Linked DNA regions of Homo sapiens. The protein of the gene in region 1 interacts with the protein of each later gene in a pairwise test. Each region holds a gene or a part of one and is shown on either strand. Other genes may lie near its edges.

Evidence for each region.
Region 2: the proteins of KIF1A (region 1) and RETREG1 interact in a two-hybrid assay, tested with the Homo sapiens proteins (one study listed by IntAct).

Annotation. Positions count from the first base shown.
Region 1 is NC_000002.12:240,810,159-240,817,426, reverse strand, and holds part of KIF1A (kinesin-like protein KIF1A), read left to right. Parts: intron 1-7,268.
Region 2 is NC_000005.10:16,613,827-16,621,824, reverse strand, and holds the start of RETREG1 (reticulophagy regulator 1), read left to right. Parts: upstream 1-4,827; 5' UTR 4,828-4,853; coding exon 4,854-5,173; intron 5,174-5,338; exon of another isoform or gene 5,339-5,899; intron 5,900-7,998. UniProt on the Homo sapiens protein: Endoplasmic reticulum (ER)-anchored autophagy regulator which mediates ER delivery into lysosomes through sequestration into autophagosomes.

The DNA.
Region 1 (7,268 bases):
GTCTGGGGACCTCTCTAGGTCATTGCCACATTCAGTGTTCTTAGGCCCAAAGGATGTGGCTCACCACCCACAATATGGGTGGCCAAAGGGACTCAAGGTGTCACCTCCCACTGCCCATCACCCACTCCATGCCCAGGAGCGTCTCTGAGAACCATGGGGGGCTGGGCCACACCCTGCCCCGAACCTGTCCATGGGTGGCCAGGGTACCCAGGGACACAGCCAGGCAGCGTTGGGCCTGCGTCCTTGCCGGCTTCTGCCCCTTAGGTGGTGGCCTCCGGCCATAGGCCCATCCCTGCTACAGGAGGGTTTGGGATCCCAGAGCTTTGCATCCCAGTCCTTTGGCATGGCACCTGGGCAGAGGCAGGGGCACAGTGGCCCCACCTGACGAAGCCAGCTTGCTCTTTAGCTCCTGAGCCCCACTGGGATCCCCACCCTCAGCCTGGCTGGCCTCTCGCCACCCCAGTGCCCCCACCCCCAGGGCCTCAAGAACCCAGGGAACAGCTGGCTGGGCTTGGCCCACGTGCTGCAGTTGGGGGTGCTGTGGGGCAGAGGGCACAGTCAAGGTCAGCAGCAGGTGGAGACTGAGCCTCCTGACCTCTCCTGCTCCTTGCCAGCCCATCCTGCCAGCTTTGGCCTCCTGCAGGCCTAGTGCATTGTAGAGATTGATCCGGATGTGTGGATATGGGACTTGGATGTGGGACTCAGAGGCTGGGGTTGCCGGAATGAGTAGGAGGGGCTGCTGCCTCTCTAAAGCCTCCTCACCCTGGATTTAATCTCCTAATCCCAGGCCTTGTGGTCTGGGCAGGCCCAGCCCTGGCTGCCACAGAGCCTGGGGATTCAGATGACCTTTGGGGGTCCCTCCTGCTTGCCATCCCTGCCAGATTTCAGGACGCCTTGGGGTATAGGGAGGGCAGGCCAGTGCCTGGCTCTCCAGGCATCCTCGTGCTTATTCCTCACCCCTCCCCACAGTGCCCTGGAGGGGTCCAGAGCAGTCACCCGGCCACACACACTCATAGTCACATGCATCCACTCGAACACACACAGATCCACATGCATATACACATACACACACATTGCACACACACTGACACACACATGCACGCACACCCACCCATGCATACATTCACACACACAGACACTCATACACACACATGCATGCTCATGCACACTCACATACCCACACATACATTCACATACAAACACACATACACACATGCTTATGCACGCATGCATACACACATGCATGCATGCAGATAGACACACACACACACACACACTCTGCATCCCTTGTCCCTGTCTTTGTTCTTGCCTGGGTTTCTTCTCAATACTTTCTACTCAACCTCCACATTAGGTTTTAGGTCCCCCTCAAATGCTGCCTCTGCCATGATGCCTGCTGTCACCCCTACCCCTCAGATTGGCACCCCCTCCACAACCATAGGTTTCCAGGGGTGGGGAAGAAGACAGAGAACACTGGTCATAGCCTGCACTGTGCACCTCATGTGCTTCCCTTTATCCCATGCCACTCCACACCTGAACAATGAGAACAGCACCGCTTGGCTCGGACCCCACTGAGCCAGGTGGTGGTGTTCCCATTTTCCAGGTATGGAGACTGAGGCTCCTGAGAAGCCCATGTGGCTTGTAAAGTGAGGACCTGGGACTCCGAGGATGGTAGCTCCTTTAGTGCTTTCTGCTCATCCCTCCACTTTCTCCTCCACCCCCATTACCCCCCACTTCTCCCACCCCCACGGGGGCCAGCACGGTGCCTCACACAGAGTGAAGACTCAGTCAGTGCTCTTCCATGGCTGAGCCGGTTGTTCTAGCCCAGGTACCGCATTTTCTGGTAGAGTCCAGGTTGAGCTTTGGCCACCCTCTCAGGGGTTGGGGTGTCTTTGGGTCTCAGTGTCTCTTGTTCAGAACCTATGGATTCCTGAGCCTGGCTTAGGAATGACAGGCACCCCCTTCCCTCTGGGCCTCCCGTGGGGCTCCTGAAATGCAGCTCTAGGGACAGGCATGGCCCCGGACTGCTCCTGCAGGGCCCCTTCCCTGAGGCTGGTAGTGCCAGGAATGCCCTCAAGGGGTTCCTGCCCCCACCTCAGCCCTGCCAGAAAGGCCCACCTGAGGGTGGGCCTCAGTTTCCTTCTCCATCTGTCATCAGCTCAAGCCAGGATGGTGCAGGACAGGGCTGGGCAGTCAATGCTCAAGGTCATGGGTCGGTGTGGCTCCTGAGGAGCTGCTGTGGGGCTGGGGTGGGACTGTACTCAGTTGCTTGGTGTCATCTGGTCCCCACTCTCCTGCTTCTGGGGCCAGGGCCCCACCATGGGTGCAGGTCCTTGGGGCCTGGGAGGGCTGCAGCTCTAGGACAAGTAGTGGCTGCAGTGGGCTAGGCGCAGACCAGAGGAGCACGCTTACGGCCCCACACCCTTTGCGTCAGCTCTGTACTTAGGCAAGATGTTCTTGGTTGGTGTTTTATTTTCTCCAGCTCTTGGTTATCTTTATTTTATTTCATTTTAGAGACAGGGTCTCACTCTGTCACCCAGGTTGGAGTGCAGTGGTGCAGTCACAGCTCACCACAGCCTCAACCTCCTGGGTTCAAGTGATCCTCCTATCTCAGCCTCCTGAATAGCTGGGACTATGGGCATGTATCACCACACCTGGCTAATTTTTTGTAGACGGGGTTTTGCCATGTTGCCCAGGCAAGTCTTGAATTCCTGGGCTTAAGCAATCCTCCTGCCTCGGCCCCACAAAGTGCTGGGATTTTAGGTATGAGCCACCGCGCCCAGCCTTTTTATTTTCTTGAATGAGTTTTTTCCCTTTTATCGCACCTCCAGAAGTGGCCTCTGGCAGCTGCTTGCCATGTCCCCTGGATTGGAGTTTCTGTTTCTTGGACCCTAGAGCTGCTTGTTTCTTGGTTTCCTGTCTTGTTTTGCTGGAGCACATCCTTGTGTGACTTCCTTGAAAGGGTGCATGAGTCTTTGGTGTGTGAGAGTGTTTTTGCTGTGTCCTTGCTCTGGGTGGTAGTGTCTGGGGTACTTCTGTTCCTAAGTAGCTTTCCTGGGAACTCTAAGGATAGGGTCACCATGGCTTTCTGCATCAGGTCACTTATGAGCAGGCTTTGTTGGCAACTCGTCTTTTCTCCCTGGAAGCTTTTAGGATCCTGTCTTTTCCTTGGTGTTCTAACTTCATGTCGACGGGTGTAAGGATGGGGTTCGCATTTATTGGCACTCGGTGGGCCCTTCACACTGAAGTCAGGGTCTCTACTTCTATTTGTTCGTAATTTCCTCCTTTTCATTTTTTCTTTTACCCTGAATTCATGGGTTGGTCTGTTTGGTTGCTTTTCTCTTGTATATTCTGTCTCCTTGTTTATATTCTAAAGTCCTTTGACTGCCTTTTCTAGGGTTTTTGGAATCTTGTACTTCATCTCTTACATTTTTCATCTCTAAAATCTTCACGTTTCTAAATGTTCTGTCTCATAGCATTCTGCCCTTGTTTTGAAAATGAGCATCTTCTTGAATCTCCCGGGTGCGTGGACAGAGGTTGTGCTCGGTTGTTTCGCGTCTGTTCCATGCTTTGCCTGTCCTTCCCGCAGGGCCTGTTTTCTGCTGGCAGCTCTGGTCCTTCCCTTTCACACTCTGTTCTCACGCCCGAGGAAGGCATTAGTTGGCACATCATGTGTTAGGGAGGCCATTGGCGGGAGCGGCAGGGCTGCTGCTGCTCACCCCGGAGTGGTTCTGACCAGAGCTGGGGTGGGGTGTCCATGGGGGGTGGGGTGTCCATGGCAGGCCCTGGCTTAGGTGAAGGGGTGGGGCTGGCTACCAAGCTGCCCCTGCATATCAGAATGAGGGGTACTGCATTCTTCAGCTCACTGAAGGCTTCACTCCTGCTATGGAGAAAGCCATTCAGCTGCTCACCTGGGGGCACTGGCAGTGACCACCCTCGGAGGGTGGATGGCGGGGCTGGGGGTGCGGGCTTCCATGTTAGCCTCACTTCTCACCCCTGCCTTCCACCAGGTGCCTGAGTTCCCATGCCTGAGCCCCTGCCCCTTCCCTGCCCTCTGCAAGCGGCACTCAGGGCTGAGGTCCCAGGAAACGCCTCTCCCACGCCCTTTGCAGTTGGGGGCTGTGTGGTGGGCTCTGGCCCTATCCCATGGGGTCTCAGAGCAACCAGTGTGCCTGCAGTCATTGGACCTGGGGCTCCTTACTCTCCAGGGGTGGCCAGGACACTCCTCTATGACAATCGGTTGTAATTCTAAGAAAAACCTGCTGTGGTTTTTTTCTCAAACTCTTCAAGAAGGATCAGTGTTTCAGGAAGTGGCCCATGCCGATGCTTTGTTCTGGGCTGGCCCTGCTGGGTGTGCACATGGCGGGCCACTTGTCTAACTGGGAGCAAGTGGATCCTTGAGGTGAAGGCAGATCCCCGAGGTGAAGGCGGATCCCCGAGGTGAAGGCGGATCCCCGAGGTGAAGGTGGATCCTTGAGGTGAAGGCGGATCCCCGAGGTGAAGGCTGATCCCCGAGGTGAAGGCGGATCCCCGAGGTGAAGGCGGATCCCCGAGTGAAGGCTGATCCCCGAGGTGAAGGCAGATCCCCGAGGTGAAGGCTGATCCCTGAGGTGAAGGTGGATCTTGAGGTGAAGGCGGACCCAGAGGTGAAGGCAGATCCCAAGGTGAAGGCGGATCCCCGAGGTGAAGGCGGATCCCTGAGGTGAAGGCTGATCCCTGCCTGAGGTGAAGGTGGATCTCGAGGTGAAGGCTGATCCCTGAGGTGAAGGTGGATCTTGAGGTGAAGGCGGACCCAGAGGTGAAGGCAGATCCCGAGGTGAAGGCAGATCCTGAGGTGAAGGCAGATCCCTGAGGTGAATGTGGATCCCGAGGTGAAGGCAGATGTCTGAGGTGAAGGTGGATCCCCAGGTGAAGGTGGATCCCCAAGGTGAAGGCAGATCCCGAGGTAAAGGCGGGCCCCTGAGGTGAAGGCAGACCCAGAGGTGAAGGGCGTCTGGGCTCCAGGCGGATGCCTGTGCGATGCTCTGCAGCATGGGCCTCTCCAGCAGCTGGGCAGGGAGTGCCTGTGCCAGGCCTGTGTCTGGCCCTCACCGTCACCCCATGCCTGGTCTTTCCTGGACACTCCTCGAGCTGAGGCACGCTTTGTCATCTGCCTTGGTGCCACCCCCAGCCCCCTTCCACAGGGACTTGGCTTTTTCTGCTGATGCCCCCACCCCAGGGTGAGGCAGGAACCTGAAATGGTCCCAGAGCCCCAAAGCAACAGGGGAGTTCCTCCGGGGCCACCCTGCCCTCTGTGCCTGCAGTGACTTGCGGGGCGTGGCCCGGTGCGCCCAGTGGGTTTTCTGCATGCATTTTTACCAAGTGAATGGATTCTGTTCCCCTCTCCTCTGTCCTGGGGCCCCTGGCTCAGGGCTCATGGTCTCCCTTTCCTGGAGTCATCACAGCCGGCTGGCCATACCCACATACCCACATGGATGGCCACCATCCCCCAGCCCTCTTTCCCTCTCCTGCCCTCGGGCCATCTTCTCTGCCCACTTCCTGTGGGTGCATCCTGGGTCTAGTCAGAGCCTCAGACACCCGTGGTGTTGCCTCTATGTCCCCAGCGCAGACCCCACCCTGCCACCACCAGCTTCTCGGCATCTTCTTTGGCTCTGAGCAGTCATCCCAACCCCTCTGGCTTCCTCCCTGCCACCCTTGAGCCTGTGCCCTCATCTCTGGCCACTCCAGCCAGCGTGACCTCACCCCACAGGACCAGTTCATGCTTCTTGTTTCTGATGACTTCCTGCCCCACCTGTCCCAGAGGTGCCCCTCTCTGTCTTTGAGGGGAGCTCACCCTTTCTCCTGGGCTCTGGCATGTGCTGTGTCTGGCACTGTGGACCGCAACCCCCCGCCTTCTCAGGGGTTCAGCTGTGTCAGACCCCCATCCTCAGCTTTGCCTTCTGCCATCAGCCACGCCCATAGGCTCTGGCCACCCTTGGGGCCACGTGGCTCCCTCTCAGGTTGGCTGACAGAACAACTTCTTGAAGATAGTTTCTTTTCTTTTCTTTTCTTCTTTTCTTTTTTTTGAGATGGAGTCTCACGCTGTAGCCCAGGCTGGAGTGCAGTGGCGCAATCTCTACTCACTGCAACCTCTGCTTCCCGGGTTCAAGTGATTCTCCTACCTCAGCCTCCCAAGTAGCTGGGATTATGGGTGCCTGCCACCACGCTGAGCTAATTTTTGTATTTTTAGTAGAGACAGGGTTTCAACATGTTACAAGCCAGGGTGGCCACTAACTCCTGACCTCAAGTGATCTGCCCACCTCGGCCTCCCAAAGTGCTGGGATTACAGGCACGAGCCACTGCACGCGGCCAATAGTTACATCTTTAAAAATTGTGTCATGTGGTAGCAAAAATATACAACAAGGAATACAGAATATTACAACCAACGGCCACATGCCCACATTAGCTTTCAAAATAAGGCATTTCCAACCTGCTCCCCAAGGGTAGCACTGGCAGAGGGCTCACCACCACCCGGCATCTCGGCCGACCCACATCACCCTGGGGAGGAAGACGGACAGATGGGGCCTGGCGGGAAGGAGGTCCTTCCACGTCACCATGGCGGGCACATCGAGTGGCCTTGGTGGCGTCCAGGCCCTTAGACCCCCTCCACGCCCAGCACCATGAATTCGGTGCTGATCGCTCCTGGAGTGTCATCGTCTGCCCTGAGTCTGTGGAGTGCTGCTTGTGTGTTTGAAACTTCGAGGGGCCTGCAGCCGACTCTGCATTCATCTGCATCTTGGATGCTGGGCATTTGGGCTGTCTCCATTCTTTTTGTAATGATAAGTCATTCTGCATTTGGGTGTATTTCTCCCTGTGAATATGTATAGCATCTCTACTTGCAGAGTTGCTGGGGCACAAGGTCTGCAGCCCCTCCAGATGTTACCATGTTATTTTCAAAGTGGTGGCACCCGTTCACTCCCAAGGTGAGCTGTAAAAGCTCCTGTGGCCTCCTTCTGACAGCGTTTGGTGTGCCCTACTTTTAAATGTTGCCATCTGGTGGATACAGTTTGAAAATATGGTTTCCGAATTACTATCGTGGTTGAGTATCTTTTCATGTAAATTGCCAGTTCATATCTTTTTGCCCATTTTCTTCTGTGATTTTTGTAAATTTTTATTTTTATCTGTCCTCTGTGTATTCTGCGTACAAATCCTTCGTTGAATTGTATGTGTTGCAGATACCTTCTCCAGGTGGGTGGGGTTCTCGTCACCGTTTTAGTGATATCTTTTGATAC
Region 2 (7,998 bases), on another chromosome or scaffold:
AAACTTGTCAGCCTCCCTTCCAGACTGGCTCCTTCTCCTCCCTCATTCTAGAGAATGACAAGGGAAAAGTCTCTGAGAGTGCCTTCCCTCTGCCAGGCTTTATATCCTCCATGGTCTGGAGATACCTTTCTAAAACACAGGCTAGCCCCTCTGTGTCCTGCTGCAAGCCCACCCATGGCTCCCTGTTGCTCTCAGGACAAAGCAGAAGCTTCTAGCATCATACAGGAGGAGCCCCACTGTGAGTAGCCTCCTGCTCCTCCCACCCCATCCTCCAGCTTAGATCTCCTCCAGGTTTCCAACCAGGGCCAGGCTGGCTCCTCTCCTGCTTCCAGACTGTGCACACCATGCTTCCCCATTCCCTTTGCCCAGCGCCTTCTTCAGGGTCTTTATCCATTGTCTATACTCTAAGCACCATGAGAGAAATAAGCAGTCCTGTTCATCTTACCAGAAGCCCACAGTCAGTCTTTCAGGAATGGCTGATGACTAGTGAATGAAGCAATGAAATAATGAGTGAATGATACGCAAGTACAATGATGCAGAACCAGGACCATCAAAGGGGGTGGGGGGAAGAGGTTGCAGCAAGGACCCGACAGTGCTTTGTCTGCTGGTTCAGATTCCTGTTGGGAAGGGGTTGGAAGTTAATGTCCTGCAGTCACCCCTGTGGATCATAGGTGTGCGTGTGTTTGTGTGTGTACCTGGGGATAGACAGGTAGGCTTCCTTGGGGGATATACTCATGTTGTCATGTGACCTCCGTTCTTTTCAGTTAACCATTTTGAAGCCTTAAAAAAAAAACTTCTTTTAGGTATTAGGGAGCAATACCCCAACTGATATCTGGGTGGCCAACATCTTGGCCACCATCTTTCTGGTAAGCACATCCCTTATGGAATGCTTGTCAAACACAGACTATGCTAGTTTGAATATTTCCGTCTGTATATGCACAACAGACATTCAACATAAGTAGAAATAGTGAATTCCTTCTGTGAGCCAGGCACTGGGCTGGGCCTTGGAAGCCAGGTTAGAGACCCGGGAGATGATCTTCCTTCCTTTCCAATTGCTCTGTGCCTGCTGATGCTGTATGATACTCTTATTTATCTGTGCTTAGAGTGAACTATCCAGGTTTTCTTAGTGAGAAGAAAATTATGGAAACTTAGGAATAAGGAGCAGAGGATATAGCAAGGGGAGGAGGGTAGAATTAGTTTAATAAAAGTACCAACACAAAAAAAATTCTATCTGCAGGCTAATAAACGATACAACATATACACAAGTGTATTAGTTCATTCTCATGCTGCTATGAGGAAACACTTGAGAGTGGGTAATTTATAAAGAAAAGAGGTTTAATTGACTCACAGTTCCGCATGGCTGGGAAGGTCTCAGGAAACTTACAATCACGGCGGAAGGCATCTCTTCACAGGGTGGCAGGAGAGAGAATGAGTGCTGAGTGAAGGGAGAAGCCCCCTTATAAAGCCATCAGATCTTGCAAGCACTCAATATCACGAGAACAGCATGGGGGAAACCGCACCCATGATTCAATTACCTACACCTGGTCCCACCCTTGACACGTGGGGATTATTACAATTCAAGGTGAGATGTGGGTGGGGACACAGAGCCAAACCATATCAACGAGCCTCCTTTTGTTTAAGGAATCATGGAGCTACTGTAAGATTCTAATATATAATATTGTAGAGAAAAGAAATTTCCCCAAAATATTATGACTAGGGGGCTTTTCCCCATCATTCTAAGTCTTAGCTTGATTTTGCCCTAGGAGACTTCCTATAGTGGGAATTAATTATTCATAATTTTTCCTCTCCTATTACAAGCTTTCCACATACTCTTAGATGAGAAAAGTGAGTGGCCTCTGTTAGAGAGTTCTTATGTGCATTTGGACTTTCTTTACTGGAGCTGTCTCATTTTCTAAACTCTCATTCAGTAGCTAGAACTTTTTTTTTTCTCAGACACGTTTCCAGTTTCCTTTTCTCAGATATATATTGTCAAATCATCTAGCTCACTAGTGTTAATCACTCTGTTCCTAATATATAGCAATAAAATTTCAGAAGAGAATCTTAGTAAGATTACTTGCAGGAGTTCAAGAATGTGGCGTGTTCTTAAAACTAGGGGACAAGGTTGATTTCAACCATTGTTAGCATTATGTTTCTGTAATCTTAGCCCTGAATAAATTACTCAAGCATCACAAAGATCATTAGACAAACAACAAAACAACAACAAAATCCCACCCAGCAGCACCATTTGTATGTCTATGCCAGTGTCTACTTCTGTCATACAGTTTGTAAGTATTAGAGGTCGGAGGTGAAAAGGAAAGGTTAATTAGCCCAGCCTTTTATGCAAAACAGGTTGCATAGCATTTTCTCCATAGTAATTTTGAGAGAGAGAGAAAGGATAGACTTTACAACACATAGCTGTGGGGAAGGAGGTTTATTATTAAACAGAGATAATAAATAAGTGTTGGAAACCACACACAGCAACTGGAGCTTAGCTTTTATGTGTCTTGGTTGCCAGCAGCTTTTACTACTTCAACAGATCCTGACAACAATAATTAGAATTCAAGGGAAGCAGGAGGAAGGTGATTAATCTTGCAAACCCATTTCTGGTAGCACATCAGCACTGGTCTGGGGAACGGGGACACCTGGTTCTTCCTCTCTCCTGCCCCATGTTCTCCACACTGGCTGCAGCACACATCTGTCTAGTGACAGATTTTAGAATAGCAAACCCTGGGCTGTATCAAGCGCCAAACAAAGGCCAAATGACACAATAAAAGCATCATTTATCTTTCAAAAACTTCTCCGCTACTGCCAAGAGGGAGGACCCACACCTGGGAAAAGATTGTCTCTCTTATATGGAAGAAACCTGAATTGTTTCCACGTTGCTTTTTCCTTGACACCCAGGCCACTTTCCATCGGGTTGTCAGGATACTCCTAAGAAGGGGAGTCGGAAATGCCAGATGTTCTGTATCACCTTTAGTTAAAAACCAAGCCTCCTGTTACTAGAGACCATTCAATGTCCACTATTCCCTTTGGTGAGTTACTTAAGGAACTGTGCGTCTCCACCTGCAACCCCATGCCTCCTCTCCTGTTGAATTCCCAACAGCAGTTATTGCCCCTGTCCCCAATCCCCACACTAATGGGGGCCCTACAATTTAGGGCAGAGGCCATTTATTACAAAACGCTCTTGAAACCTGATCCCTCCACTCCTCCCCTAATTTTGGATGCACAGTTTAAGTAAGGAATCTCTTAGCACTTAGCGAAGGCTTCTTCGCTGTGGCAGATATCACAATTGTAACTGGGCCCTCATCAGACTGGGAGCTTCCTGTGGGTGGAAGCTGCATCCACAGAGCTTAGCAATGCTTTGTGTACTCGGTAGGTGCTCAGTAAGCCTTTGCCTGGGCTCTGGGAATATAACTCCTTTGAAGTACAACATACAAGCAGTAAAGTGCAGACACCTGCAGTGAATGTACAGATCAATGGATTCCACGTGTGTATACACAGAGGTTTACAATGGCCACCCAGAGGAGCGTTACAGAACATTCCCCTAGAGACTCCCTTGACGCAGGGAATTTAATTGCCCTCCCTTCCATCCTGTGCAGGCAGGCTGGTTGCCAGTAAAGGGATATGAGATGCCCTGATGCATCCGCAGACAGAACCCTTAGTATGGGGGGGAAGGACCTGTCATTCTAGAGTAAAAGTAAGACCAGGAAGATTAAAGAAGACAAAAATTTAAAAATGCAAATGGTGAAAAGCATAAACAACTATTTTCCTCTCTCCCCACACTCACCCAGAAGCACCGGGGCCAAAGAGAGGGCATGGGAGGTCTCAGGATCCCCTGCCGCCCCACCACTGCCCTGATGCCCGCTTGTGACGCAGAGACCGGAGTGGCTCTGAAATTACTGTCTTCAAAGCAGGCCAAACCTTGCTTGACACGTGCAAAGTTCCAATCTCTTGCTTCTCAGCTCCCCGCACGCGCGGGCCAACGTGCACTTCTGAGCCAGATCACCTAGCCACAAGGAGGGGGAGAGAGGGGGAGATAGGAGGAGAGAGGGGAAGATAGGGGGAGAGACGGGGGAGAGAGAGGGAGAGGCAGAGAGAGAGAGAGAGACAGAGAAGAGAAAGGAAGCACCTGAGACAGAGAGAAAGAAGAGAGAGAAAGGAAGCAGCTTCCCCCAACGCTGCGGCCTTGTGTTTCCTCCCGTGTCAAACGAGAGGGCCCCAAATTGACCCCAAATGTTTTTTCTTCCTTTCTCAATCCAACATTTATACCAGCACGTTATTTCCAGGATGCCCAGGACCTCTGCTATGGTTGTGCTGCTGTCCCTGCAAAGGCGCTGGGGATGGCCGAGGTGGGGGATGTCTCTGGGGGCTGAAATACGCTGCCAGGGGAAGGGGCGCCCCGATACCACCCTCAGTGGCTGCTGGTTGGGCGACCGGTGGCCCTGGCTTGAGAAAGTGAAAATGTCCAATCTATTTTGCCTGGAGCCTTGGGTCTCTTTTGGATACGGAACCGAGCAGCAGTCCTCCACTTCGCCCTCTCCCGCCGCTGCAAGGGAAAAGGTCGTTTTCCTCGAGTCCCGGAGAGGCCCTCCAGGAACCCAGAGCCCCCCGGGGACACCGCCCAGCTCCCGGCGCCCGGCCCCGCCCCTGCGCGAACTCGGCCGCACCCACTTTCCCGGGCGGCTCCCCCTCCGTGGCCTGTGGCGTCACAAGGCCCCCAGCCGCCTGTGCCCCGCGGTGCGCGCCCCGCTCCGGGACCTGCCGCCACCGCCGCCCCGCCCTCGGCGGCACCCACACCCAGGCGCGCCCGCGCGCGCGCCCGGCCCCGTCCCTGTCTGGAAGCACAGCTGAAGATGGCGAGCCCGGCGCCTCCGGAGCACGCCGAGGAGGGATGCCCGGCTCCTGCCGCCGAGGAGCAGGCGCCGCCGTCGCCGCCACCGCCCCAGGCATCCCCCGCAGAGCGGCAGCAGCAGGAGGAGGAAGCGCAGGAAGCTGGGGCGGCGGAGGGCGCGGGGTTGCAGGTGGAGGAGGCCGCGGGCCGGGCGGCGGCCGCGGTAACCTGGCTGCTCGGGGAGCCGGTGCTGTGGCTGGGCTGCCGCGCCGACGAGCTGCTGAGCTGGAAGAGGCCGCTGCGGAGCCTGCTCGGCTTCGTCGCTGCCAACCTGCTGTTCTGGTGAGAGCTTGGGCAAGGTGGGGGCGCTGAGGAGGGCAGGTGACCTTGGGGCGCCCGGGGCCCCGGGGACCCAGTGCAGGGGGAGCCCGCGGGACACTGCGGAGGAAGAATTGTCAGCCCTGCCCCACTTTCTCGGCCACCTGTCTCGAACAGGTAGACACTCACCGCAACTTTCCTCCGGACGCACGTCCCTGTGAGCAGTTGTCGTTCTCCGTGTGCGGATCCAGCCTCAGATGCGAGGTGGTCGGCCGACCCTCAGGCACCTGCACCTACAGGTGTTCCCATCGTGCTTGAAAACTTCGCCCCTGCTTTCTAAAACTCTGAGGTCTTGACCTGCTCGCCCAAGCTTGCCGGAGCAAACGTGCTTGAACGTGTCTTGGTTCTTGCAGCCCCAGCAGGCATATCTGGACCAGATTAGGTACCCGTTCAAAACGGTGCCGCATTCATCAGTCACCTGAGATGGGCCCTGAATGATTTGTTTTTTCCTTCCCCTGGAGCGTTAGGTTTACTGTGTTTACTCCCTGATGAGAAAACGGGAGGCAAACAAGCAGGTGGAGTATGCCCAGCACCCACCCCCGGGTGTGCACAGTGTGGAAAACAGGCATATTTTTAGGTGAAGTACAGGGAGAACACACGGGAATGCTCAGCCCCTGAGCAACAGGTTTGTCTCTCCAAAAAGCGCTCTTCAGAAAGGCCAGGGAAATGTCTGTCTCCTTCGTTGAAAGTGGTGTCCTGTCATCCGTTACCACGCTATTGAGGGCGGAGAAAAACCTTCTTTGTTTGCTAAGTGTCCTCATAACAAACATGACCTACACAGTGCAGAATAATCAGACTCCGGTAACAGATACCTTGTTACAGGACAGAGATTTCTGAACCTTAAAGTTGAGAAATAAATAAATTGCACAAAATAGACAGCCTGTCATTTTCTAGGTTAACTTGAGCAAGATGAATATTTTCCTCAGATCTCTGCTAGTCCTGGTGTTTTCTCTTAAAACTAGCTGTATCTTGTCGGAGGTCCCTGAAAGTGAATTAACTTTGGATCTCTTAGGTATCTGTGTTTGGAATAGAGTTTATTCCAAATCTATCTTATTATGGAGTGAATGCGAGCACTCAAATAAGAAGGACATATTGTCTTATGCTAGATTGGGCAATAGTCTAATAGTCTTAGGGCTGTGTCTCACTAATGTTTACGATGTTTTTAACATTTTATTTCTTTTTCTTTTCTTTCTTTCTTTCTTTTTTTTTTTTTTTTGAGATGGAGTCTCACTCTGTCGCCCAGGCTGGAGTGCAGTGGCGCGATCTCGGCTCGCTGCAAGCTCTGCCTCCCGGGTTCACGCCATTCTCCTGCCTCAGCCTCCCGAGTAGCTGGGACTACAGGCGCCCGCCACCACGCCTGGCCAGTTTTTTGTATTTTTTTTAGTAGAGACGGGGTTTCACCGTGTTAGCCAGGATGGTCTCGATCTCCTGACCTCGTGATCCGTCCGCCTCGGCCTCCCAAAGTGCTGGGATTACAAGCGTGAGCTACTGCGCCCGGCCTTAACATTTTATTTCTTAATTTTAAATTTTATTTCTTTAAAAAACTAATACAGTCTCACAGTGCAAAAGTTTAAAGGTACAAAAGGGTAAGCATTTTGAAAATCTCTTTCTCATCCCAGTCCCTGGCCGCCCAGTTTCCTCACGGAGGCCAGCAATGTTGCTAGTTTCCTGTGTCTCTTTCCAGATAGTGCACATTTCAGCAAATACACCATATTCTATGCAAATTGTGGAATAACATATGAGCTCTTCCTTTTCCTAGTATTTCTTGGTGATTGCTTCCTTGTTCTTTTTCAGCTGCTTCAGAATTCTATTGTAAGGATGTCTCAAATTACTTAACCTGTCTCCTACTGAGGCAGTAATGTTTCCAAGCTTTTGCTATTTCAGCATTATAGCTAATGACCCTGTACATGCATCATTTTGCATATATGCAAGTATTTTAGAGAACTTCCCAGAAGTGGAATTGCTGGGTCAGAGGGCATGTGCACTTGTAATTTTGATGGCTGTCACCATATTGCATGCAGCTCCTTAGGGTTCTAACAATTTATACTCCCACCAGCAATGTGTATGACTGCCTGCTTTGCCACACTCTTGCGAAGAATATTTTATGAAACTTTTTGATCCTGCAAATCTGATAGGTGAAAAAGACTATCCCAAAATGATTTTATTTTGCAGTTCTCTGTGATTGAGCATTTTATCTTATGTTTAAGAACTACCACATTTACCATTTATCAGCATTGTTTGTTTATAAATAACCTTTGTCTATTTTTTCAAGTAGGCCAGTGTTCTTTTCCTTATTGATTTATAGGAGCTGTTTTTATATTAAAGACTTTAGCCTAATTTCTGTAACATGAGTTGCAAACTTTTTTCTATGATGTTTTCTTTAATGACACCTATTGAAAATAATGTTTTTGCATAAAATAATTGAAAGGCATATTTGATAGTATCCAGGGGTGTTTTCTTCCATCCATTTTATTTATACTGACGGAGAGGAAAACATTGGCCAGCCATTCAGCCTAGATACAGCCTTCTCCTTATCTGTTTTATTTCATCTCCTGTTTGTGGCATCTGCATTCCATGCATGTATTTTCTTTGACAAAAATGACTGTCCTGTTCTTTAAGTTCAGAATTACTTGTTGCTTTTGCATTATAATTCATTGGAATTTATGACCCATTTATTAATGTCATTAAAATTTTGTTTTTTTTTCCCTTTTATTTGTTGCTCTGGGGGTTAAAATGATTTTCAAGGACATTACGTTTTCTTTAAATAATGTATTTCTTCTCAAATGATC